Linked DNA regions of Homo sapiens: region 1 is linked to region 2. Evidence: fine-mapped expression QTL. A gene starts in region 2. The other region holds a variant in brackets. All regions are shown on one strand. Distances are between the middles of the regions.

Evidence for each region.
Region 1: its variant is fine-mapped to the expression of CNGA4 in tibial nerve (GTEx, PIP 0.98).

What each region holds. Positions count from the first base shown.
Region 1 is chr11:6,311,765-6,327,324 of GRCh38, reverse strand. CAVIN3 (caveolae associated protein 3) reads left to right here and starts at 6,824. Exons shown (of 2, transcript NM_145040.3): 1 at 6,824-7,232; 2 at 7,761-8,379. The coding sequence starts at 6,849. The coding sequence ends at 8,162. It overlaps LOC101927825 (a long non-coding RNA gene), which reads right to left and starts at 8,184. Exons shown (of 7, transcript XR_930998.4): 1 at 7,628-8,184; 2 at 3,633-3,740; 3 at 3,290-3,431. RefSeq lists enhancers at 6,058-6,147, 6,178-6,237, 6,248-6,607, 6,818-6,867, 7,411-8,148. The variant G/A (reference allele first, on the strand shown) is at 7,190.
Region 2 is chr11:6,234,810-6,242,872 of GRCh38, reverse strand. It overlaps CNGA4 (cyclic nucleotide gated channel subunit alpha 4), which reads right to left and starts at 3,784. Exons shown (of 6, transcript NM_001037329.4): 1 at 3,605-3,784; 2 at 3,388-3,489; 3 at 3,083-3,189; 4 at 2,162-2,807; 5 at 1,093-1,442. The coding sequence starts at 3,666. RefSeq lists enhancers at 7,823-7,902, 7,300-7,990 and a silencer at 8,033-8,063.

The sequences.
Region 1 (15,560 bases), 81 kb before region 2:
CTTCCATCCATTTGGATATTTTGATTTCTGGAGTCAGTACAAATTCACTTCCTGATGCCTCAAACTTATAGCTATTGTAACTGCCAGGGGCACAGAGCTCCCTCATTGTGTGGAATGGTTTTACCTCTTCCGTAGACAGGATGTCTATGACAAAGGGTGGAAGGTAGTGCCTGTCTACTGAGGCACATTGCCTGTTAAATGAGTGGTCTGTCTGTGCCTCACATTGTTACTTTTGATTTAAAGGTTAGTGCCTGGAGGATGCATCAGTTTTTCTGGGCAGATGAAAGTGAGGGTCCTGGTCAGGGATATTTCTTTGGTAATGAGCTCACATAGATGTCTCTCATCCTTTCTTAGATTTTGATTTTTCTATTTAATAATCAAAGACTGTTAAGCTCTATTGCTATGTAAGACAAAGGGTTCCAATTCACAAAACCACTCAGCAACCTCTGTCGAGTCTCTCCTCTAGTACTATTATTCCCCTCCAGTAATCAGCCAGCAATTGTTTTTCAAAAGCAGTACAATTCTCAGCTGCTAAAAGCATTCCTTAGTCAAAAATCCTAAATACTTATGCTGTATTTTCCCCTGTAGGATCTGCCCTCCTCCCTCCCTGACAAATCATCTTGGTGGAAGAGGTAGAAATCACAGAGACTTCAGGGTCTCATTTTTCTTTCTGACTTGTAGGACCCAAAGGATAGAATTGACCATACTGTGGCTTGTAACTTGCCAGGGTTAGTCACTGAGGCTTCTCTCAATCCTACTGAAAGTATGTAGCCTTTTGGAGGACTCAAGATATAGAGTGTGTGAAAATTCCAAGGTGAAGCATTTGCTGACTCTAACACCTCCCTCTGTTCTTTGTTGCAGTAGGAGGTGTTACATGTTTCACTACCTGTCCTGAGTTTAAGCACTACTATTCTAGGTAATCCCTGTCTGCTGGATTTCTGGTGGATGGTCTCTGAACCCAGTGGGACAGACTCATCCTCTTGGGTATGATGTGAAGAATGGCAGTGCCTTTGTCACTTTTGTTTTAGGGGATCTTGGCAACTTCATATAGTGGGGCACCTGGCAACTGAAAGAAGAAGGAAAACAAAGATGCAGAATGATACCATCTAAGGCACTATGATCTGATCTGTCTTTTTCAGAGATTTCCTTAAAGCGAAAGGAGCATCCAGCTGTTCTTGAATAGGTAGAGACAGAGGGCCACCCTTAAGCAGATCTTTGTTAGGCAGATATATTTCAGACAGCCCCAGGCCTGATGAAAGGTGTAGTGGATTTGTTTCTCCTTAGTACAGCCAACTCTTCCTCATAGTAGGCTGTGCTCTGGGGAGGGGATGGGCCAGTATATAAATGGAACCCTTGACAAACAGGATGGGTAATACCTTTTAGTTTTTTAAAGCAGTTGTTAGCTCAACTACCATAGTATTCCACTCATTTTTGCAAGACTCATTACATCTGGGCAACTATTGGTTTGTCTGTGTTCTACTGTGAGTCTTCAGGTTTTATTAACTTTTCCTACAGAGACTCTAATACTTTCACATAATTGGGGAAGCCATTTGCAGGAGCATCCTGGGTAATGGGATACTGTAATACTGATATTGATTAATCAAAGTTGTTATTAGTTTTCCAGAGCTACCAAAACAAAAAAAGTCACAAACTAGGTGGCTTAAAACAACAGAACTTTGCTGGGTGCAGTGGCTTACACCTGTAATCCTAGCACTTTGGGAGGCCAAGGCAGGTGGATCACTGGAGGTCAGGAGTTTGAGACCAGCCTGGCCAACATGGTGAAACCCTGTCTTGTCTTTACTACAAATACAAAAATTAGCCAAGTGTGATGGCGGGCACCTGTAGTCCCAGCTCATCAGGAGGCTGAGGCAGGAGAATCACTCAAACCCGGGAGGCAGACGTTGCAGTGAGCTGAGATCATGCCATTGCACTGCAGCCTGGGCGACAAGAGCAAGACTCTGTCTCAAAAACACCAACACCAATGCCAGAAACCCCATAAATTTATTCTGTCATGGTTGTGGAGGGCAGAAGCCTGAAATCAAGGTGTTGGCAGGGGCATGTTCCTTCTGAAGCTCCTAGGGAAGGATCCTCCCTTGCCTGTTTCGGTTTCTGGGGCATTCCTTGGTTTGTGGCAGCTAACTCCAATCTCTGCCTCTGTTGTCACATGGTGTTCTCCCTGTGTATCTCTTCCCTCTCTTATAAGGACACCAGTCATATTGGATTAAGGGCCTACTCTACTTCATTATGGCCTCATCTTAATTATATTTGCAAGATTATATTTCCAAGTAAGGTCATATTCATAGGCACCAGGGGTTAGGACTTAAATATATCTTTTTGGGGACACAAGCAACCTGCGACAATAAGTTTCCACTTTTCATGTCCATACCATGGGGTATGAGAGAGTAGATGCCAGCCACACCCCTAGTTTAGAGAATTTTTTTTTTTTTTTGAGACGGAATTTCACCCCTGTTGCCCAGGCTGGAGGGCAACGGCACAATCTCAGCTCACCACAACCTCTGCCTCCTGGGTTCAAGTAATTCTCCCATCTCAGCCTCCCGAGTAGCTGGGATTGCAGGCATGTGCCACCATCTCTGGCTAATTTTGTATTTTTAGTAGAGACGGGGTTTCTCCATGTTGGTCAGGCTGGTCTCAAACTCCCGACCTCAGGTGATCCGCCCACCCTGGCCTCCCAAAGTGCTGGGATGACAGGTGTGAGCCACCGCATCTGGCTAAGAATAGAAATTTTTAAGACCACTGCCTTAGAGGTGTTATAAAGTTTTTTAATTGGGAAGCCATCAGGCTGAGATGGCTCCACCACATTTGATTCCTACATAAGCAAACCAAAGCCCAATGTAAAAAGTAAAAGAAAACTAGGGACCTTACCAATCAGAAACCACCAACTAACCTCTAACTAGGGGAATTTCCATATTAATGAATCAAATATATTTTCTTTGTCTTACTTCCATGTTCAGCCTATAAAAGCTCACTGCCCACACTGCTGCAGCTGAGCTCTCTGAACCTCTTTTGGCCTTGAGTGCAGCCTAATTTATGAATTGTTCTTAGCTCAAATAAACCCTTTAAAATTTTAAGGTTCGTAAGTTTATTTTTGAACAGAGGGCATCATTCTGCATCTTTCTTTGTTTTCTTCTTTTCTTACCCTTTTTGGAAACTGCAATACAGTTCTTCCTTGGATACTTTATAATCAAGGTCACTCTACTACAATTTCTGTCAATCTCTGCATTATTGACTCAGGCATTCTTCTAGCTGGCCCCAAGTTATTTTTACTTACCTCATGGCTTCCATTTTCCACTATCAGCCAGTTCATATGGCTTTTAAACTTGAGGCTTTGGGGAGACTGGTAGAACCATCATTGGCTTTATTGTTAAGTTTAAGGTCCTCCTTGTTCCAGATATCCAGAGAGGGAGTTAGTGCTACAGGAGATGGAAAAAAATTAGGCAGATAGTGAGGGCAAAAGAGTCCTCAGCAGAATTTCCCTTTTAACAAAAATCAGCCCCCAAATCATTTCTTTTCTAACAAAGAACAGCCTGAAAAATCAAGCTGCAAACATAGATAAGCAAGCTGGAAGCCTGCAGGGGTGAATGCCAGCAGCTGTGTCAATAGAAAAGGGCTACCTGGGGGCCAGGTATGTTCAACATGGAGGCTCCATCTTCCCTTTTCTTTGTCACCACAGTTACAGTAAAGAAACAGGCAACATGGCACTGGCCAGGTAGAGAACCCATCTGCAAAATAAAAGATTAGGGTGGGGGTGGCCATCTTTTTGTGCCTATACAAATGGCATACCTAGCCCTAACCAGTTTTTTGAGCTGTATGCAAATGACACACCTGGTCCAACCAATCTTTTGTGCCCTATGTAAATGACACACTGCCTCCTTAAGGTCATCTATAAAATCCCTTGCATTCCACGGTGGAACCAGCAACCCATTTCTCTGGGACCCCTCTCTGCTGCAGAGAGCTCTTCTTTTTCTTTTGCCTATTCAACTTCTGCTCTGAACCTCTTTGTGTGTCCATGTCCTAGTTTTCCATAGCTGTGACACAACCAATCTCGGGTATTTACTCCAGACAACAATGCCACTTCATTACCAGGTTTTAAAAAAATATCTGTCTATGCTGGGCGCGGTGGCTCACGCCTGTAATCCCAGCACTTTGGGAGGCCAAGGTGGGCGGATCATGGGGTCAGGAGTTCAAGACCAGCCTGACCAACATGGTGAAATCCTGCCTCTACTAAAATTACAAAAATTAGCTGGGCGTGGTCACGCGTGCCTGTAATCCCAGCTACTCAGGAGGCTGAGGCAGGGGAATTGCTTGAACCTGGGAGGCGGAGGTTGCAGTGAGCCAAGATCGCGCGTTTGCACTCCAGCCTGGGTGACAGAGCGAGACTTGGTCTCAGGAAAAAAAAAAAAAATCTATCCAAATCTATCCAAGTATCTATGCAAGTACTTCTTACTTCCAAATGCACTGAATTTCCTTAGCCCCACTCATCAAAGCTGGTGATTCTTTCATAGGCTTCCTGTAATATTAATATCCATTCCCAGTAGTACCCAGATTTTTGTACAGATATCCACTTTTCCTCCCATACCACCCTAATACTCCTGGGGAAGCTGAATCTACTCTACTTCAGAATTGATCTAACTTGTCAAAAGCCAATTATTAGATTTCTTGTCAGTGATTGTTTAGGGAACATAGGCCTAAACCCATCAATGCATGTCATTTTTGTAGCCATAGAATTTGGATTTGGAAAAGCCATGTAACCCAGTGGAAGGCAAGTGTAAAAATTCTGGGAGGCTTCTGGGAAATAAATGTCCTAAATTTTAAGATGGTCCCCTTTTTTTTTTAAGATCTTGTGCAGAGTTGTGAGGCCTGGAATGAAGCTGACACCTGTGCGTATGTGGGCACATACACATGGGTAGGGGGTGTGTGGGGGACATGGGGGAGTGTGAGAGGTGCGGGATGGGGCTCATAGTTGAGCAGTGGAGAGAACTGTAGAAAACCAGATTTGGAGCTGTGAATGACTCACACTTAATCACCACTCTACCAATCCTCTTTTTCAATTATGTTTGAATTGAGTTTCCTGTTACTAAGTACTGTTTGAATTGAGTTTTTGTTCCCTCAGTCTGAAAGCATTTTAACTGGTACATCCCTGATGGATCTCTCTGGGTAAATGTAGTTTCACTGGAAGAGATGGTGATTCCCACCAGATTCCCAAGAGAGCTTATTTTCTCTTGTATTAAGCAGCAGGGGTCAGGCTTATGGCCTTGTATTTGTAGAAATCAGCCATCAGCTTAGCATCACCAGATTTCTGGCATTAGCTGCCCACGTCTGTGGCACTTCAGGCCCATGTAACTATTTCCAGAGTGACACAAGTTTCTTCCACAGTTGTCAACAAGTGGCCCTCACAGGTTCAGTGAGAAGAGGAAGAGGGAGAGAGATCATCAGGATTAATGGATTACTTGCATTTGTGAGACGGTTTGCCAAGTATTGCTACAAACAAGGCACGGGATTTTCTTTTTTCTTTTCTTTTTTTTTTGAGATGGAGTCTTGCTCTGTCCTCCAGGCTGTAGTGCAGTGGAGCAATCTTGGTTTACTGCATTCTCTGCCTCCCAGGTTCAAACGATTCTTCTGCCTCAGCCCTCCCGAGTAGCTGGGATTACAGGCGTGTGTCACAACGCCCTGCTAATTTTTGTATTTTTAGTAGAGACGGGGTTTTGCCATGTTGCCCAGGCTGGTCTGGAACTCCCTGCCTCACGTGATCCTCCCCCCTCGGCCTCCCAAAGTGGTGGGATTACAAGCATGAGCCACCGCGCCCGGCTAAGGCATGGGATGTTTCGAACTGCTGACATTAGAAATTCACAATCCACATCATTAACTGGATCCTCCATGCCCACTCTCTCCCTCTCTGCAGCAGCAATTTCAAATCTTTACTCTCCGCAGTTCCACAGAACACAAGAAACAAACAAACAAGCAAAAAAAGTCAGGCAGGAGCCCAAGTAACCTCTATCAAAGCAAAGACCAGTGCCTAGTCTAACGCTTTTAAGGATTTTAAAAGAGGTGAAGGTGTCCTGCTTATCCTCCAAGCTTGGGTGCTGGGGCCGGGGCGGCTGAGATTTACCAGTGAAACCCAAAGAAAGAGAGGGCAGAAAACTAGAGAAAAGAAACCAGATAATGCTACCCAAGAGGACGAAATAAAGAAGCAGGAAACGAAGCCTGAGGCTAAACCCTGGAGATGACTATTAGGAAAACACCAGAGGATGCCCCGCCCGCCAGCCCACAATGAGCAGCCTGTCCAAGTCACAAAGCGGGGCCTCGGGCCTTGACAGTTCGCGATCTGTAAGCAGAATGTTCCAGGGCCTCCCTGTCGCCTGCATCCAGCCTGGGGGCAATCTTCACTGGTGTGGGAGGCCGAAAGTGGACGGCGACGGAGGCCCCTCTGGTTATCTCTTTGCCGTGCCAACACAGTCTCTGCGCCCACTAAGATGCATGAAATAAAAATTTCCGTGACTCGCCCTTTGCAGTGGAGAACTGAAACAGGCACACCAGGGAATTGGAGCGGAGGAGGGTAACTCAAACTCAGAGTGAGAGGGTTTGCAGGGGGCCGATTTGGGGCCAACAGGCTTCCCAGCAGGCCCCCGGCGCGGGACAGCGGAAGGCGAAACGCTTTCAAGAGACCCCGCTGCCAACATCCCCACGCCCTCGCGCCCTCCCGCCGCCCCAGAAGGCCAACTCCGCCTGCCTGAGTCACAGCTGGAGCTGGGGAGGAGCCAGGGAAAGGAGGCCCCTGACCGTAGTGCGGCCAGCAGTTGCAGGCAGACGGAGCAGAGCGGTCAGGGATCATGAGGGAGAGTGCGTTGGAGCGGGGGCCTGTGCCCGAGGCGCCGGCGGGGGGTCCCGTGCACGCCGTGACGGTGGTGACCCTGCTGGAGAAGCTGGCCTCCATGCTGGAGACTCTGCGGGAGCGGCAGGGAGGCCTGGCTCGAAGGCAGGGAGGCCTGGCAGGGTCCGTGCGCCGCATCCAGAGCGGCCTGGGCGCTCTGAGTCGCAGCCACGACACCACCAGCAACACCTTGGCGCAGCTGCTGGCCAAGGCGGAGCGCGTGAGCTCGCACGCCAACGCCGCCCAAGAGCGCGCGGTGCGCCGCGCAGCCCAGGTGCAGCGGCTGGAGGCCAACCACGG[G/A]CTGCTGGTGGCGCGCGGGAAGCTCCACGTTCTGCTCTTCAAGGTCAGTGACCTCAAACGGTCCCCAATCCGAGGCCTTTGCCGGCCTGTGGGCCACCAGCTGGGGGCTCCCCGCTTCCATCCACCTACCACACCCACATTCCTGACCCCTCCCGCCGTCTGTTGCTGTGGAACAGACTCACAGAGCCGCACCCACTTCCCAAGACCCAGCCCCATCCCTCCCTCTCACGCCTGAGCCCCGCCTGGCCAATCCAAGCCCGCCCAGCTCTAGCTCAGGCCACGTCCGCAGAATTTGGTCTGAGTCCCAGCCAATCCCTAAAATAACGGTGGTTGAAAGGGCATTCCGTGACTGCGGGCACTATCCTCTTCTCGCCCCTCACCAGGCCTCACCTACTTTACAGCGTTTTGCAGTTCGCACGCAGCTTTCCCTCCCCTTACCTTCCCACGCCTGCCTTTCCCCCCAGACTCTGGCTGCGGAGGTAAAAGGTTTCCCTTGTGTAATTAAGGAGTGAGTTTCGGGCTGCTGGGGGTAAGGAGCTGCCAGGATCAGTGCTGTGTCCGTCACATGCAGGAGGAGGGTGAAGTCCCAGCCAGCGCTTTCCAGAAGGCACCAGAGCCCTTGGGCCCGGCGGACCAGTCCGAGCTGGGCCCAGAGCAGCTGGAGGCCGAAGTTGGAGAGAGCTCGGACGAGGAGCCGGTGGAGTCCAGGGCCCAGCGGCTGCGGCGCACCGGATTGCAGAAGGTACAGAGCCTCCGAAGGGCCCTTTCGGGCCGGAAAGGCCCTGCAGCGCCACCGCCCACCCCGGTCAAGCCGCCTCGCCTTGGGCCTGGCCGGAGCGCTGAAGCCCAGCCGGAAGCCCAGCCTGCGCTGGAGCCCACGCTGGAGCCAGAGCCTCCGCAGGACACCGAGGAAGATCCCGGGAGACCTGGGGCTGCCGAAGAAGCTCTGCTCCAAATGGAGAGTGTAGCCTGAGGGCTGGTGTTGCCTGCCTCCCCTGTGCTTGTGCCTTGTCCCAAAATAAATCCTTTCAGAATGTAGCACTCACGCCCTAATAAGGAGCGAATCCTACATCCACCAAGGCGGGCGCTCTGGCCCTCCCTTCCTTAAGCCCAGTCCTGTGTCCTCTGAAAGAGGTGCAGTCACTCACACCTGCTTGCGCTCACCATCAATAAAAGTAATTTCACCCGAACCAGACTCCGTGAGAAGGGATGGGGAAGCGGTTGGATGTGGGAAGGCAGTTACAAGGAATAAGACAAATGTTGGAACCTGGAATCGTACAATTTCTCCAGTTTCCACGGAGTCCTGGGTTCTAGCCTCCAGTGACACATAGAAATATCCTTCTGACCACTTGCTCTTTAAACACTTTCCTCATGGGAACACACAGTTGCAGTTTTTGTTGTTGTTGTTTTTGTGTGAGTGTGTGTGTGTGTTTTTTTTTTTAGCATCCAGTATAGTCCTTGCTGTAGGTGCTTACTCAGTGTCAACTAATGGTTTTCCTCTTAGTCTTTTCTTTCCTTGGCACCTCCTAAAAGTTGAGTTTTCCAGGATTCCTTTCTTGGCCCTCTTTTTACTCAGGGTACTTTTCGGTTGACATTCATGCCTAGGCCTCCCCTACCAGCTGCGTACACCCCATACCACTGTCTTGAGCCACAGTTGAAAAGTGCTTCAAAAGTAGCAAGTATCTTCTACCTTTTAAATTCCATTTCGTTCAACAGCTATTTATTGAACACCTACTATGTGGCAGGCCCTACTAGGTATGGTTCAGAATATTTCCCCCTCTTGTGTTTTCTTTACCAATGATGACAAAAAAAATCAATATACCATCATCCACAGAGAAACTTGGGAGTCCTTGTCGGCTCAAGGACTTTCTCTCATCCCCCTCCCACATGGAAACAGCTATTCTAATGATTTTACCTCTGCAATCTGTCCACTTTTCTAATACAGCCGCTGCCTTATTTCAGGCCTTTCACTTGACCGGTATTTGAACTGCCAATCTCATCACATCATTCTTGATTCAAATATTTCAGTGTCTCCCCATTATCTTCAGAATAAAGACCAAGCTCTTTATAATTATTTTCAAGGCCCTTTGTGATCTGGTCCCTGCCTATTTTTGTAGCCTCATCTCTCACCACTTCCCCTTGTGCTACCATTGAGTCACACTGAGCTCTGTGCTCTCACTGTCATCCCTGCTATCCTGCCAAACTCAGTAAAGCACACCTGTTTCAGGGCCAGGTATTTCTCTTCCTTCTCTCAAAGCACCACTTGCACACCTCTAGTGCTAACTGCACTGATTGTGAGGATTTGTGGTTACGCCCCCTCCGATCTACTAGATTGTGACTCTCTTGCAGTAGGGACAGTTTTATTAATTTCTGTATTTCCCACACCAAATACTGTGTCTGGCACACGGTAGACCTTCTTGAGGGGCTGAGGAGAGTTCCCTGCTGCAGTAAAGCAAGAATATTACAGAAGGGGCTGGGCACGGTGGCTCATGCCTGTAATCTTAGCACTTTGGGAGGCCAAGGTGGGTGGAGGACTTGACCTTGGGAGCTCAAATCCAGCCTTGGCAAAATGATGAAACCCCATTTCTACAAAAATTACAAAAATTAGCTGGATGTGGTGGCTTGTGCCTGTAGTCCCAGCTACTTGGGGGGCTGAGGTGGGAGGATCACTTGAGCTCAGGAGGCAGGGGTTGCAGTAAGCCAAGATCATGCCACCGCCCTCCAGCCTGGGTGACAGAATGAGACCATGTTTCAAAAAAAAAAAAAAAGGAAAAACAAAAAACTGGAAGTGGGAGTGGTGGTTAAGGATGAGGAGCACAGTCACCTACTCCTTCATTCAGTCACTATCATATAACAACGTTTTTAATACCTACTTTGTTCCAGGCCCTATGCTAGGTCTCATGAACACCTTGGGGAGCTCGGGATTTAGAGGGAGATACCATCACCAATTGTAATGAATGATGGTTACATGTAAGTTATTTTGAGAGCAAATGGGGAAGGGGCATGACCCAACCTGAAGGAGGAAAAGTGGGAGATATATAAGGAATTGTTCTTGGAAATGGTAAATAGTGAGATGGAAAACAGGAATGGCAAGGGGCAGTAGAGCTCAGCGGTGGGTAGTTTGGGTTCTCTGTTCCCTTATCTATAAAATGAGATAATTATAGCCCCTTACTTAGATTGTTGGAAAGATTAAGTGACATAAATCAAGTGCCCAGCACATTGCCGGAGTATAGTTTTTGCTCCATAAGCTTCAGGTATATAATTTATTTGTCCACTCATTCAACAAATAACTTACTGAACTCTTAGGGTCTTCCAGGTGCTATTTTAAAATCTGAGAATACTGCCAGGCGTGGTGGCTCACATCTGTAATCCCAGCCCTTTGGGAGGCTGAGGCGGGCAGATCGCTTGACTCCAGGAGTTTGAGACCAGCCTGGCCAACGTGGCGAAACCCCGTCTGTACTAAAAATACCCAAAAAGTTAGCCAGATGTGGTGGTGCACACTTGTAGTCCCAGCTACTTGGGAGGCTGAGGCACCAGAATTGCTTAAGTCTAGGGGGCAGAGGCTGCAGATTGCACCACTGCACTCCACCCTGGGCAACAGGGCGACAGTCTGTCTCAAAAAATAAAATAATAACAAATAAAGTAAATAAAATAAAATCTGAGGATACAGTGGCACATAAGAAAGAGAAGATCCATACCTCTATAGAGTTAAATTCCAGTAGGAAGAGACAGGTAATAAATAAGTAAACATGTAAGCCAGATAAAACAAGTAAGCACATGAACCACAAGGGCATTCTGGTTATGAGCTCTGAAGAAAAAGAAAACAGACTAAGGATACAGATAAGGTTTGTGGGGGTGTTCTTTAGATAAGGACACTGGGGAGTAATATTGGGACCAGAGTTACACGTATGAATTACTCCTTGACACTTGAGTTTGAGTGGTGTCACATTTTTATTTTCATGGATTCAATAAGAAGAGTTTAAGCCCCCACATGCCTGCCATGCTGTTGGGAAGTTGATGATTAGCAATTTTAGTTATCTTCCCGTTTTCGAGACTGTGCAGTACCAGGGGGCTCATACCATCTCTCAGCCTTTGCATGTCTCTGCTGCCCTTGCTCCTTATGACCACACGATGTCAGTGTCGGGGAGCCAGTGTCCTCGTTGGTGCCTCCTCTAATTACCCGGAGGTCAGCCTGACCGGCAATATATTGGGGACAGTTAGGGTAGAGGAGGTGTAGCGGGCAGGGGTCCTTCCATGGAAGGCGGCTCTGCAGTAGCTCCATTTGGTCTGGGGAAATTCAACCCTTCTCCTGCAGGCTCCCAACCCTGGTGCTCAGACTGTGCCCCTTTCAAGGTTTGGCCGTCTCAATGGGACTGGTATGAGCAGACTCAGTTCTCTGTCCCCAAGGAAAAATAAATTCTTGTTTTTTCAAATTCCTGGAAATCTACTTGATTTTCCCCTTTCAACCCACAATTAGAATTAAGAACTAAGTGTGCATTTTCCGTATAAAACATCTTGACCCCTAGAAACCCAAAGGCTTGACTAATTTTGCAAGGGAAGGGTATATTAATGTTTATTTCTTCCTGAGTTGTCTATAGCAGCAAATAATAAGATCAAGTTAAAACAAAATTAGTTAAATTTCTTCATAGCTCATTTTGTTATATTATGTTCTCCATTATCACTGCTGGTTGTTATTATTAATATTGTTAAACATTAATGGCCAGGTGCAGTGGTTCATGCCTGTAATCCTAGCCTTTTGGGAGGCTGATGTGAGTGGATAGCTTGAGGCCAGGAGTTCAAGACCATCCTGGGTAACATGGTGAAACCCTGTCTCTACAAAAAAGTTTAAAAAAAAATTAGTTGGGCATGGGGGCACACCTGTAGTCCTAGCTACTTGGGAGGCTGAGGTGGGAAGATTGCTTGAGCCCAGGATTTTAAGGTTGCAGTGAGTTATGATCATGGCACTATACTCCAGCCTGGGTGACAGAATGAGACCTTGCCTTTAAAAAAGTAAAATAAAGGAAGTGGAGACAATGACAGAATACCAACTTGTCATCCAGCACATGTGGCATTTAGCAGCTATTTAAGCAGACGGAAGGTACATTAGTGGATCATTAACATTCACTTTGGCTTTCAACTTTTCAGGCCAGAAACACAAATTTATCTTGCATTCCAGCAAGATTAGGCTGATCTGCAATAACTGCACTCAGAAAACACTGATTAATTTGATTGCTGGATTCATTAATTTCCCGAAGAAATCTAATGGCCAAGTGACTGGAATAGTCTAGCTAGCTATTCAAAACATTTTTCATCCTTCAACAAAGTCTACATGGGAAGCCAAAGTAAGATCTTAAACTAGGTATAATGCAATAGAATAGTAGAAACTGGATAAAGATAATGGGCAGGATAATCTAACATAATATGCCCACTTTCTGCTTTGACATGCCTCTTACATGGGCAAAAATATATACATTCCTGGCAGGAAACTTCTTCCCTAGTTAAGAACTAGACGTCCTTTTGATTTTCCTTTATTGTGAGCAGAGGAATCATATAACCTCAGCATTGAAGAGAACGCGAATGCTGTCTATTCCACAAGCATTTCCAACACTAAAGTGTTCTGTACTGTCTTGACATCTATCCTTGTGGTTTCAGATATTTCTTAGTTTCATCAAAGGCAGACAGAGTTTGCATTCATGGTCTCTTTTCTATTTTAGAATTATTTTTAACATGATGGTGGAAAGCACAGTCTTTATTCAGTCATTTTAAAACAAGAGTCCAACAATCATCCCCTACCCCCGGTCCTGTGAGATTGAGCTTAATTATTCTGATAGTTATTTTCTTTAATCCATAACCTGTGTCTTAAGCATGGACATTTTGTTAGGAAGTCTGGTTTATTAGAGAAGATAGGTTTGAGATGATCCCCTATTATGAGTCATATTGTTTCTGGACTTCTATAGATCTTCCTCTCTCCAACACAGAATGAAGACAGAGCAGTCCAACCCAATTTAAACAACTCCTTTTATTTCACAGAGACTCATGGACTAGACCATTCTAAAGTAATGTGGATTATTAAATGTAGCATTAATTTTATGATATCATTATTACTTCCTGTATTCTTTATGTATTTACATGCCTGGTTTATTCTGATTTCTTTACCCACTTTCCCCAACAGTCTACCTGTTTTGCCCTAACCTTTAGATATCTCTAAATCTGGCTAGTCAAAATGTATTTTAATACTCTTAAACTTAAAAAAAATTACAAATGTACCCTTCTTATGTTTGCATACCATTTGAAATTGTTAACATCTGTGTTGACCAACTCTCCGAATGTTTGATTCAGTTAACTTGATCATTATTCCATAATTTTGTAAAGCTAATTTGAAAGATACATATCTTACTTTTTAGTATGATTTCCCTTCTCCTACCTTTCATTTTTAGAATAGTTATGAATTCATGGCTCTTTTTAAAGACTGAATTGGTATCAATTGCTGGCTGGTAGGTTTTCTCCTGATGCTTACCTGTCACTTCTTGGTATATGGGAGCTCTTTTCAACGTGTTTTTTTTTTTTTTTTGCTATGATTTGAGTGTGTCTCCAAAAATTCATGTGTTGGAAATGTAGTCCCCATTGCAACAGTTTTGGGAGGGAAATGAGGCCTAATGGGAGTTGTTTAGGTCATGAGAACTCTGACCTGTCAACCTAAATAACAAATGGAGAGGAAGACTCTCTAGAAGAAAATGATGTTTATTTGGGAATAGGCGTTACAATGGGAATGTGTATGTCTTCCACAGTAAATTATGTATATATTCAGGAGGTAAAGGAAGACAAAGGTTTTTAAAGGAAAAATGAGGAGGATTATATAATTGTTCTGAGATAATTATTGTTGACTACAAGGATTAATAACAAAGGTGGTGCCAGTCCAAGATTGGACAGAGAGTTGCTAGGCAGATGTCCTCTCAGAAGCATTATTATTATTATTATTTTTGAGATGGAGTTTCGCTCTTTTGCCCAGACTGGAGTGCAATGGTGTGATCTCAGCTCATCGCAACCTCTGCCTCCTGGGTTCAAGCAATTCTTCTGCCTCAGCCTCCTGAGTAGCTGAGATTACAGGCACGCATCACCATGCCCGGCTAATTTTGTATTTTTAGTAGAGATGGGGTTTCTCCATGTTGGTCAGGCTGGTCTCGAACTCCCGACCTCAGATGATCTGCCTGCCTCGGCCTCCCAAAGTGCTGGGATTACAGGCATGAGCCACCGCGCCCGGCCAGAAGCATTTTTTTTTATGTGTAAAGTTGTGATGGCTTTTGTGCAGGCTGTGGTTTTGCAAAGTCTTTTGTGATATCAAGAATTCGTGCACAAGAATCCCTCCTTCATACCCTTCCTCAGCTCTATTTGTCAGGGTTTTTAACACAAGTGACTCCATTTTGATTTTGACAATTTTCATAGCCCTCATGAATGGATTAATGCTGCTATAAAAAGTGCTTGTGGGAGTGGGTTTACCCCTTTCTGCCTTCCACCATGTGAGGACATAACAAGAAAGTCCTCACTAGATGACAGAACTTTGATCTTGGACTTTATAGACTCCAGAACTGTGAGAAACAAATTTCTGTTCTTTATAAAGTACTGAATCTCAGGTATTCTGTTATAGCAGCACAAAACAGACTAAGCTTTTTTGTCTTTTTTTTTTCTTAAATACTTGAATCATCTATGGAGGTATTCTTGTTTTCTTGTTACAACAGTCTATTCCATACTTATCTTGATTTTCTAGTATGTGGCCCAAGTTATCTGGTGATACCTTCTGTGGCAAACCAGCATAAGACCCAAGTCTGATTATTGAGTAGATTATTTCCCATGCTTCCACTGCGGGCAGGGTGACATCAACAGCTGCTTCAAATGTTCTTATGACAATCAGAGTCTTTTAGAATCATGAGTTTATTCTGATTTTTTTTTTTCTTCTTAATCGAGACAGAGTCTCACTCTGTTGTCCAGGCTGGAGTGCAGTGGCACAATTTTGGCTCACTGCAACCTCCGCCTCCCAGGTTCAAGAGATTCTCCTGCCTCAGCCTCCCAGGTAGCTGGGATTACAGGTGCATACCAGGACGCCCAGCTAATTTTTGTATTTTTAGTAGAGACTAAGTTTTGCCATATTGGCTGGTCTTGAACTCCTGACCTCAAGTGATCTGCCTGCTTGGGTCTCCCAAAATGTTGGGATTACAGCTGTGAACCACCGCGACCAGCCTTATTCTGATGTTTTTAACTTCAAATTCTTCCTTACTTTAACTCTTTCAAGTTATTTTTCTTTTTTCAAAGCAACTATTGTTTACTCTAATACAACATCCTTTCACAATCTTTGATAAGCCAATATTATTCTCAG
Region 2 (8,063 bases):
TGGGTGGGGAGATAGGTGAGGCTGAATGCTGCAAAGTCTTAGAGCTAGAAGGACCTTGGACAAGGGAAAGGGAGCTACTATTTGTTGAACACTTGCTGTATGCCAAGCACTGCGCTGGATGCCTCACTCACATAGCTCATTTATTCTCACAAATAACTCATTGGGTTTTTATTATTGTCCTCATTGGATAGGTGATTAAACTGAGGCCTAAATAGGGAAATGACTTGTCCAAAGTCAAACAGACAGCATCCTACCACATACAGGATGTGGAGCTTGAGGGGATCATTGGAGGACAGATGTGAGGCTTTCAGAATCCCTGAGGGTAGAATCCTCATGCTGAGAGAGCCAGAGCACATCCAGCTTCTCGGTCCATGACAGTGTGCTTACCCCATTTGCAGGATTTCCTGCTTGCACGACCTCATGCCTAATACCTGTGATTAGGCATAACAATTCCTACTGCACAGGGCTGATGAGAGGAAAAAGCAAGCCAGTAGGTAGTACCTGGCTTGGCCTAGAGGTGATGGTCAGTAAATGGGAACTTCTTCTCTTCTACCTTTCTCTTTCCACTTGGCTGTAAAAAGGTTGTTTTTTCCACTCATCCCACATGTGTATACCTGTGCGACGTTGGGCAAATTACCCAACTTCTTTGAGTTTGATTTCCTTATCTTTAAAATTGGGATAAGAATAGTACTTATCTTATAGAACTGCTGCGGGAATGTAATGAGTTAATATCATGTGAAGCACTTAGAAAAGGGGATGCAGTAAGCAGGTAATAAATATTAGCTATTATTATTATTATTATCTCTATCACTGTCCACTAGTCTATTGGTGCTTCAGGTGAATATCCACAGAGCAAGTCTACTCTCTCTTCCACGAACCCACCCTGTTCACTGGCCTTGGCTCAGCTTCTTCTCAGGGAATGGATCCTCTATGTGTTGTTTTTCTCCTGAGCCATCTAGTGACTCAGAGAAGGGCCAGGTTTCCTCAATCAGAAGTTTAGGCCTGAAGTACTATCTGGTCCCAGCACTGGGCTCTGCTGTTCCCCCCTACCCCACCCATCCTTGTCCCTGGAACAAATACTGGGATACCCACCTTTGATGTTGATGATGCTGATCTCCCCAAAGTAGAGCCCTGCACCGAGCACAGCATACTGTGTGATACCATCATCTGCCACCACGGCCAGTTGACCCTCTCGGATGATGTACATCTCTTGGCCAATGTCTCCTTTGCGGCATACATATTCACCTGGTGAGTAGGTCTGGGGCTGCAGCTTCAGCACCAGCTCCTCCAGCAGGCTGGCCTCACAGTTCTGAAAGATCTGCACCCGGCTCAGAGTGGACAGGTGCACAGACACAGCCACTTCTGCCCGCAGCCGCTCAGGCAAGTGCTGTAAGATGGCTACCTCGTTGGTCATCTTCTTGTTGATCTGCAGGTGCTGATACCTGAGAGTAAGGACAGTGCCATTTCCTTACCAGCCCTTTATGTGCCTGCCTCCATCCCTTCCTTCAGGGCTCAGCTCAGCTCCAGCCAAGAATCCCACCATACTGAGATCTAACAGGGGTCATGGGAGTACCTGACAGTTGGATTACCTGTTTTCCAGGGCATAGACACCTCTACCACTTTACATAACCCTTCACCTCCTATCAGGCTCTACCCTACCCACCAATCAGTGATGTCTTGTTCCACCCCTACCCTTAGCTACCTCAGCCACCAAGGGCCCCTCCTCTCTGGGGACCCTCTGCTCTACTTCCCCAACTTTGTGACACTTCCTTTTGTTCAGTCCACAGTATGAATCACCATAGGTAGCCAATGATCTTGTTGCTGACCATTCTCAGGGGGGATTGCCCTTCTTCACCCACTCCTTCCAGAGCCTTCTGAGCCCTACCAGGCAGTGGCACTTCCCATTCCCTGGTCTCCATATTATCCTTTTTTGAGTATGAGCTCCTCTCCCTATCAGTCTCTTACCTACCCCTCCCCCAAGTCCTGATTCCCTCAGTTGAAAGAAGTTCCCTTTTTCCAAGCCCCAGCCAGCAAACCCACGGCTGAATGCTACATTTTGACAGCCTTGCCTGGCTCACCAGGCACTAAGGACCCAGTTACCTCCCTCAGGTTCCATCACCTACACTGGTCCCTGTCCTGGTCTGGAACCCCGCCTTCTCACCAGTCAATAACTCGCCGCTCCAGCTTGCGGTTGACGTGCTGCAGCTTCATGTACTTCTTCACCAGTGCATGATCTGGGTAGAAAGCCGCATCTGCAGTGTTCATGTTGTAGATGACAGAGCTCATGCTACCCATGATGGTGGCGAAACCCATGACGGCCAGCAGGAAGTCGCCCACCATGAAGAGGTACTCTTCTTCCCTGGCTGGCGGCGGTGTATCGCCCACTGTAGTCAGTATCAGCGTGGAGAAGTAAAAGCTATAGAGGTACTGGCGCCGCAGGCGCTCAAAGCCAGGCTGCGCGGGGTCCGGGTACACCCATGCGTCACGCCCGAAGCCCAGGTACCGGGATAGGGCAAAGTATAGGCAGCTGTTCCAATGGATGACGACAAAAATGTAAAGCATCAGCTTGGCAATGCGAAAGGCATTTGGGTAAGCTGTGCGGGTCTCTGTGCGGTCGAAGGCCTCGAAGAGGCGGGGCGCGCGGAGAAAGCGGTTCAGCCTCAGGGTGGGTGTGTGCGGGCCCAGCCGCACGTAGACCACATCTGTGGGCATCAGGGAAGCCAGGTCCAAGAAGAAACTCCAGGTGCGAACGTAGCGACTCGAGATCCTACCCTTGTCCACCACCAGGATGCCCTGTTCCAAGAATCCTGGGGAGAGGGAGCCGGTAGGAAGCGGACCTGCTGTAGTCAAGCTTGGGCTGAGCATGAGCTGCCCAGGGCAGGCCAGGGAGACTGTCTGAAGGACAGAGTGGAGCCAGGCATAACTCTGCTCCCGGCTTTCCGGGGTGAGCACTGGGATGCTGTCAGGCATAGAGGCACGCGAAGGTGCTACCACGGTGGGGGTGCCTTTCTTGTTACTTCTTAAGTGGCTATCTTTAGGAAGGGAATGTGGGACAAAGGGTCATTCCTAGAAGCCCACTGACCTGTGTGGAAGCGCACCACCATGTCTAGTAGGTATAGCAGGTCACTCGTGTAGTCCAGCACCAACCAGGCCACCAGATAACCGTGCTGCAAGTCGGGGAAGCAGGCTCTGCAGGGCAGGGTTAAGCATGATTGAATTAAGGGCACCCTCTGTGTGCGAGGCGTCTCCCCAGGGCCCTTAACCCTCTGCCTCAGGCCCTCCCATGGGAATTGCTCCTCCTGCCCCACCAAGGGTCTGCCCTTCTCCTTGACCTCTCTTTAGTCCTCTTTTTGGCTTCCAGCCCCTCCCTTAGCACCGCTGCCATACCTGCACACGAGGATGATGAGGTTATACATGACTGGGAAGACCATTGTGTTCAGCCACCAGTAGTAGTAATCCCCAGATGGGTCCAGGACAGGCAGCAACTTCCTGTAAGAAAGAAAGTCTTGCTTCATTTATTCACCAGGCATTCAAAGCTGTAGTTGTGACTGGGGCACCAAGAGGAATGAGGAGAGATCCCACACAAGGGACCAGGACTTCTCACCTGGCCTTGGATGGGGCTGGGGGACTGGACTCTGTTGTCTTCACTTTGGTGTCCTGGCTCATGGTTCTGTGGTCTGGTGCTGGGGTGTGAGATGTCCACACCCTCTCTGCCTGTAGGGGACTTCTGGAGTTGGGCACTAGTGCCTGACTGCCTGAAGGAGGCTGCTGTTGGGCTTCTGCTGTGACTTCTTTGTCTTTGGGGCTCTTAGCAACACAACCAGAGCTAGCGCTACTGAAGGGGTGGAGACAGTCTAGCTCTAGCACTCTGCCCTGTCTCCCAGGGCCTGGGCTTACACCTGCCCAGCTAAACACCTCTAATGAGATCCCTGGAGAAGGTGGGGGTGCATGCCTCAGAGGGAAGCCTGAGTCTTGTCTCTGTTTTCCTCCTCCCCTCTTTCCACAGCAACTGAGCTACATAGGTGTCCTCTGGGTCAGAAGACCTCAGTTTTAGTGTAGGATCAAACACTCTGTTTTATCTTTGCAAATTCTATTTGGGCCTCACTATTTATTTATTTAACAACTATTACTGAATGGCTTATCTATGTCAGGTGCTAAACTATTCTCCAGGGACAAAGAGATGCCTCTCACATGAGAAGTGAGCTCTATTTTTGTAACCTACTTCCTACCCTTATCTACCTCCACATACGCCTTCCCCCATCACACCATTCTCATAGGTAGTGTGATAGGGGCCATCCTATGGTGCTTTTGTCCTCATATCCTTCTTGTGACTTCTAGTGCCTGATCCTACCAACCATTCCATGTGTTTTATGGTCCCCAATCTTTCAACTTTTCTCTTTTTGTGAACCTGCTTCAATATCTCCTATATCAAAACAAACAAAAACCCTACAATTTCTCCCTCAACCTGATGTTCCTTTCACTGCTATCATCTTTCTCAGTCAACAAATCAAAATCAGAACACCCATAGGCAGGTGTTCTGTGTGCCAGGCCAATATTGTGCTAAATACTAGGAATTGGAGATGAATAAGACACGCTCCCCCTTCTCCAGAAGCTCACAGTCTGCTAGGTGAAATAGTCAGGCCAGCAGGTAATTACACATGAGGTAACTAAACAGCAGCAGTCATTGCCAGGCTGCTGATGAGTACTCTGTTAGCTGGATACACGGAAGGCTATTATAGTACACATGAAGTGGCCCTACAGAGCCTGGGTTCTGCAGGATGAATAGGAGTTGGGTACAGAGATGGGAGGGTGAAGAGCACTAGAGGCAGAATGCACAGAGTGGGCAAAGGCATAGAGATATCAAAAAGCGTGGGTGACTGGGCAAATATCAATTGGCTTATTTTAGAGGGCCTAGCGGGTAGTGGTGAGAGATGAGGTTGAATGATAGACAGAGGCCAGCTCAGGAGGAGTTCTGTCAGCCATGTTATAAAGCTTGGATTTTACCCAACGGCAATAGAGAACCTGTGAAGAGTTTTTCACAGTTCAGTGATAAAATCAGGTTTGTGTTTTTGGAGTGTGTTTTAGAAGAAAAACCTGTGGTCCCTAATTAAATTTTGAAAAACTCTCTTTTCCCATGGCTTCTTAATTTCTTTTTGCAAAGTATTACGCTTGTTAAAATAAAAAGACAACATTCAAAGTAATGCAACAAAATGAATAAAATCCTTTGTAATGCCATAATGTCTTGGTTTGCTGTTTCTTTTTAGTGTCTTTCATAAGCTCCTCTGTCTATTCCTTCTATGATGGTGTTTTTTTTTTTTCTTGGATTCTGTTCTAGGCTTTCTACTTTTGCCATCCTCCTAACTCTGTCTGATTGACGTCAGTCACCCACAGGACTTCCTTTCTCATATAGTGGCTCCCGAGAACTCTCCCTGAGTTTCAGTTATCTATATGACTAACTGCTCACTGGATGTTCCTACTTGGGTATCCCGCGGTCACCTTCAACCCATTGGGTCTATAACTAAGCTCATTATCTTCCTCCACTTTTTCTTCTAGAATTCCTATCTATGCCCTTTCAGCAAAAAAACCTATGACAAGCATTTATTACTATTTACTGTATAATGTTGTGGCAGTTAAAAAAAATGGTCACAAATTCTTCGACACCACTCCCTTGTGATAGTTTGTATAGCAGGAGTGATGTTGTGTGACTTCTAAGGCTAGATCATAAAAGGCCATGCAGCTTCCCTCTGGTTCTCTTGGAATGCGTGTTGTCTGGTAGCTCCCTCTCAGAATGTTCCCTCTTGGAACCTACCCATCACATTGTGAGAAGTTCTGTTTGACAGTTTGCCCAATGAGTTCAGCTTTTTCATTATCCCAGCCCAGGAATTAGATGTGTGACTGAAGAAGCCTCCAGATGCTTCCAGCCACCAGCCTCAAACCACCTCTAGATGTTCAAGCTTTACAAATAAGGCCCCAGACATCATGGAATAGAGACAAGCCATTCCTGTTGCATCTCGTCCAAATTCCCAGAATTTGTGCACATAATAAAATGGCTATTGTTTTTATGACACTAAGTTTGGGTTGGTTTGTCACATAGCATAGTAACCAGAACAAACAAACACAGAGAAAGGTGTACAATCCTTAAGTATATAGCTTAATACATTTTCACAAAGTGAACACACCCATATAACCAAGCACTCAGATCAAGAAACAGAACATCACCAGTGCCTCAGGAGCCCCACTCTGCCCCTTTCAGTCAATGTTTTTCCAAGAATAATCACTATCCTGAATTCTAATATCACAGTTTAGTTTTACCTGTTTTTGAATTTATATAAACTAAGCATTAGTTTTTAATTCTTCCTCTTATTTTCCTCTTATATCCACCCAATCATCAAACCATGGTGATCTACCTTCTAAAAATCCACATGTCCACTTCTCTGCATTTTTGCTACTCTAGTTTGGGCCTTATCAGCTTGTTTGGTCTTTTGCAAAGTTACTGTATAACTATCAATCTATGTATAAAATTCTTTATAGCTATCATCCCAAAAATAAAATCTAAATTCCTTAACATGGTTTATAAAGTTCTCCAGTCCATGTCTTCAGCCTCATCTCACAATGTTTCCTCACATGTTCCCTAGGCTCCCGACACACTGTACTGATTGCAGTTCTTACAGCACCTCCCACATGCTGTCCATTCTTCCTTTCCCTGGTATATGCTGATCCTTTGGTCTGAAACTTCTATTTCTTTTTAAATACTTTTTATTTGAACTAATTTTAGGCTTACAGAAAAGTTGCAAAAATAATACAGAGTTCTCATAAATTCCTTATCCATCTTCCCCTAACGTTATGATCTTACATAACTATAGCACAATGATAAAAACCAGGTATTTAACATTGGCAAAATACTTTTCTTTTTTTCTTTTCTTTTTTTTTTTTTGAGACGGAGTCTCGCCCTGTCGCCCAGGCTGGAATGCAGTGGTGCGATCTCGGCTAACTGCAACCTCCGCCTCCCGGGTTCAAGCGATTCTCCTGCCCCAGCCTCCCAAGCAGCTGGGATTACAGGCGCGCGCCACTACGCCCAGTTAATTTTTGTATTTGTAGTAGGGACGGGGTTTCACTATGTTGGTCAGGCTGGTCTCGAACTCTTGACCTCGTGATCCGCCCGCCTCGGCCTCTCAAAGTGCTGGGATTACAGGCGTGAGCCACCGCGCCCAGCCGGTAAAGTACTTTTAAAACTACATGCCTTATCTGAAACTTCTATTTTTCTATTTTAGTTTATCTTACTCTTGCTTGTTTCCCAAGACTCGGCTTAGACACCGTCACCTCCCGGAAGTCTTCCCTAAGCTCCTTCACCGTACCTTCCTCTCATCCTCTATACATGCAAATCATGCTAAGTGCTGCTCCTAGGTGGCCCCCGTAGTAATGTACTTATTACACTACGCTGCAATTCTCTGAGGTCCTGGAGAGCAGAGGCCGGTTCTAATTGATCCGGAATCCAGCTGGGCATGCAGGCACTTATTCCGTGTTCCTTGACTAAGTGCTCAAGGGGTGACGGAGCAGCACAGCACAGCGGTGTTGGGGGAGCCAGGGGCAGTCACCGCTGGGGTACTAAAGTAGAGACCAAGCTATGCACGACGATGGAGCAAAATGAACTAGAGTGCCCGCAGTCAGCCCTCTCTAGGGCTCCACTTTTCCGCAGGCCCGGCCCACCTACTGATTCCTCCTCTCTTTTCGTGATAGCCTCGCCCCTCCACACCCACTCTTCCACTCCAAGCGTCTCCTGGAATCCATGGCCCCACCCCTTTCTCGCTCGTCTTTCTTCCGGCTCCATCTCTCCCAAGCCCCGCCCTTCTGATCTTTCCCTGCCTGTAAAAATCGCCTCTCCTTAGGTCCCGCCTTCTGCCCTCTGGTTCCACCTTTCCTTCCCGGGCTCCGCCTCCGCCCTGCCGGCCTCCACCTTCCCAGAGGCCTTCGCCTATGACACGCCGGAGTCCTTCTGAGGGGCGGGGTTTACGTACGAAGGGACGGAACCAAGAGGAGAGGCGGTGCTCCTCCCTCGGATAGCC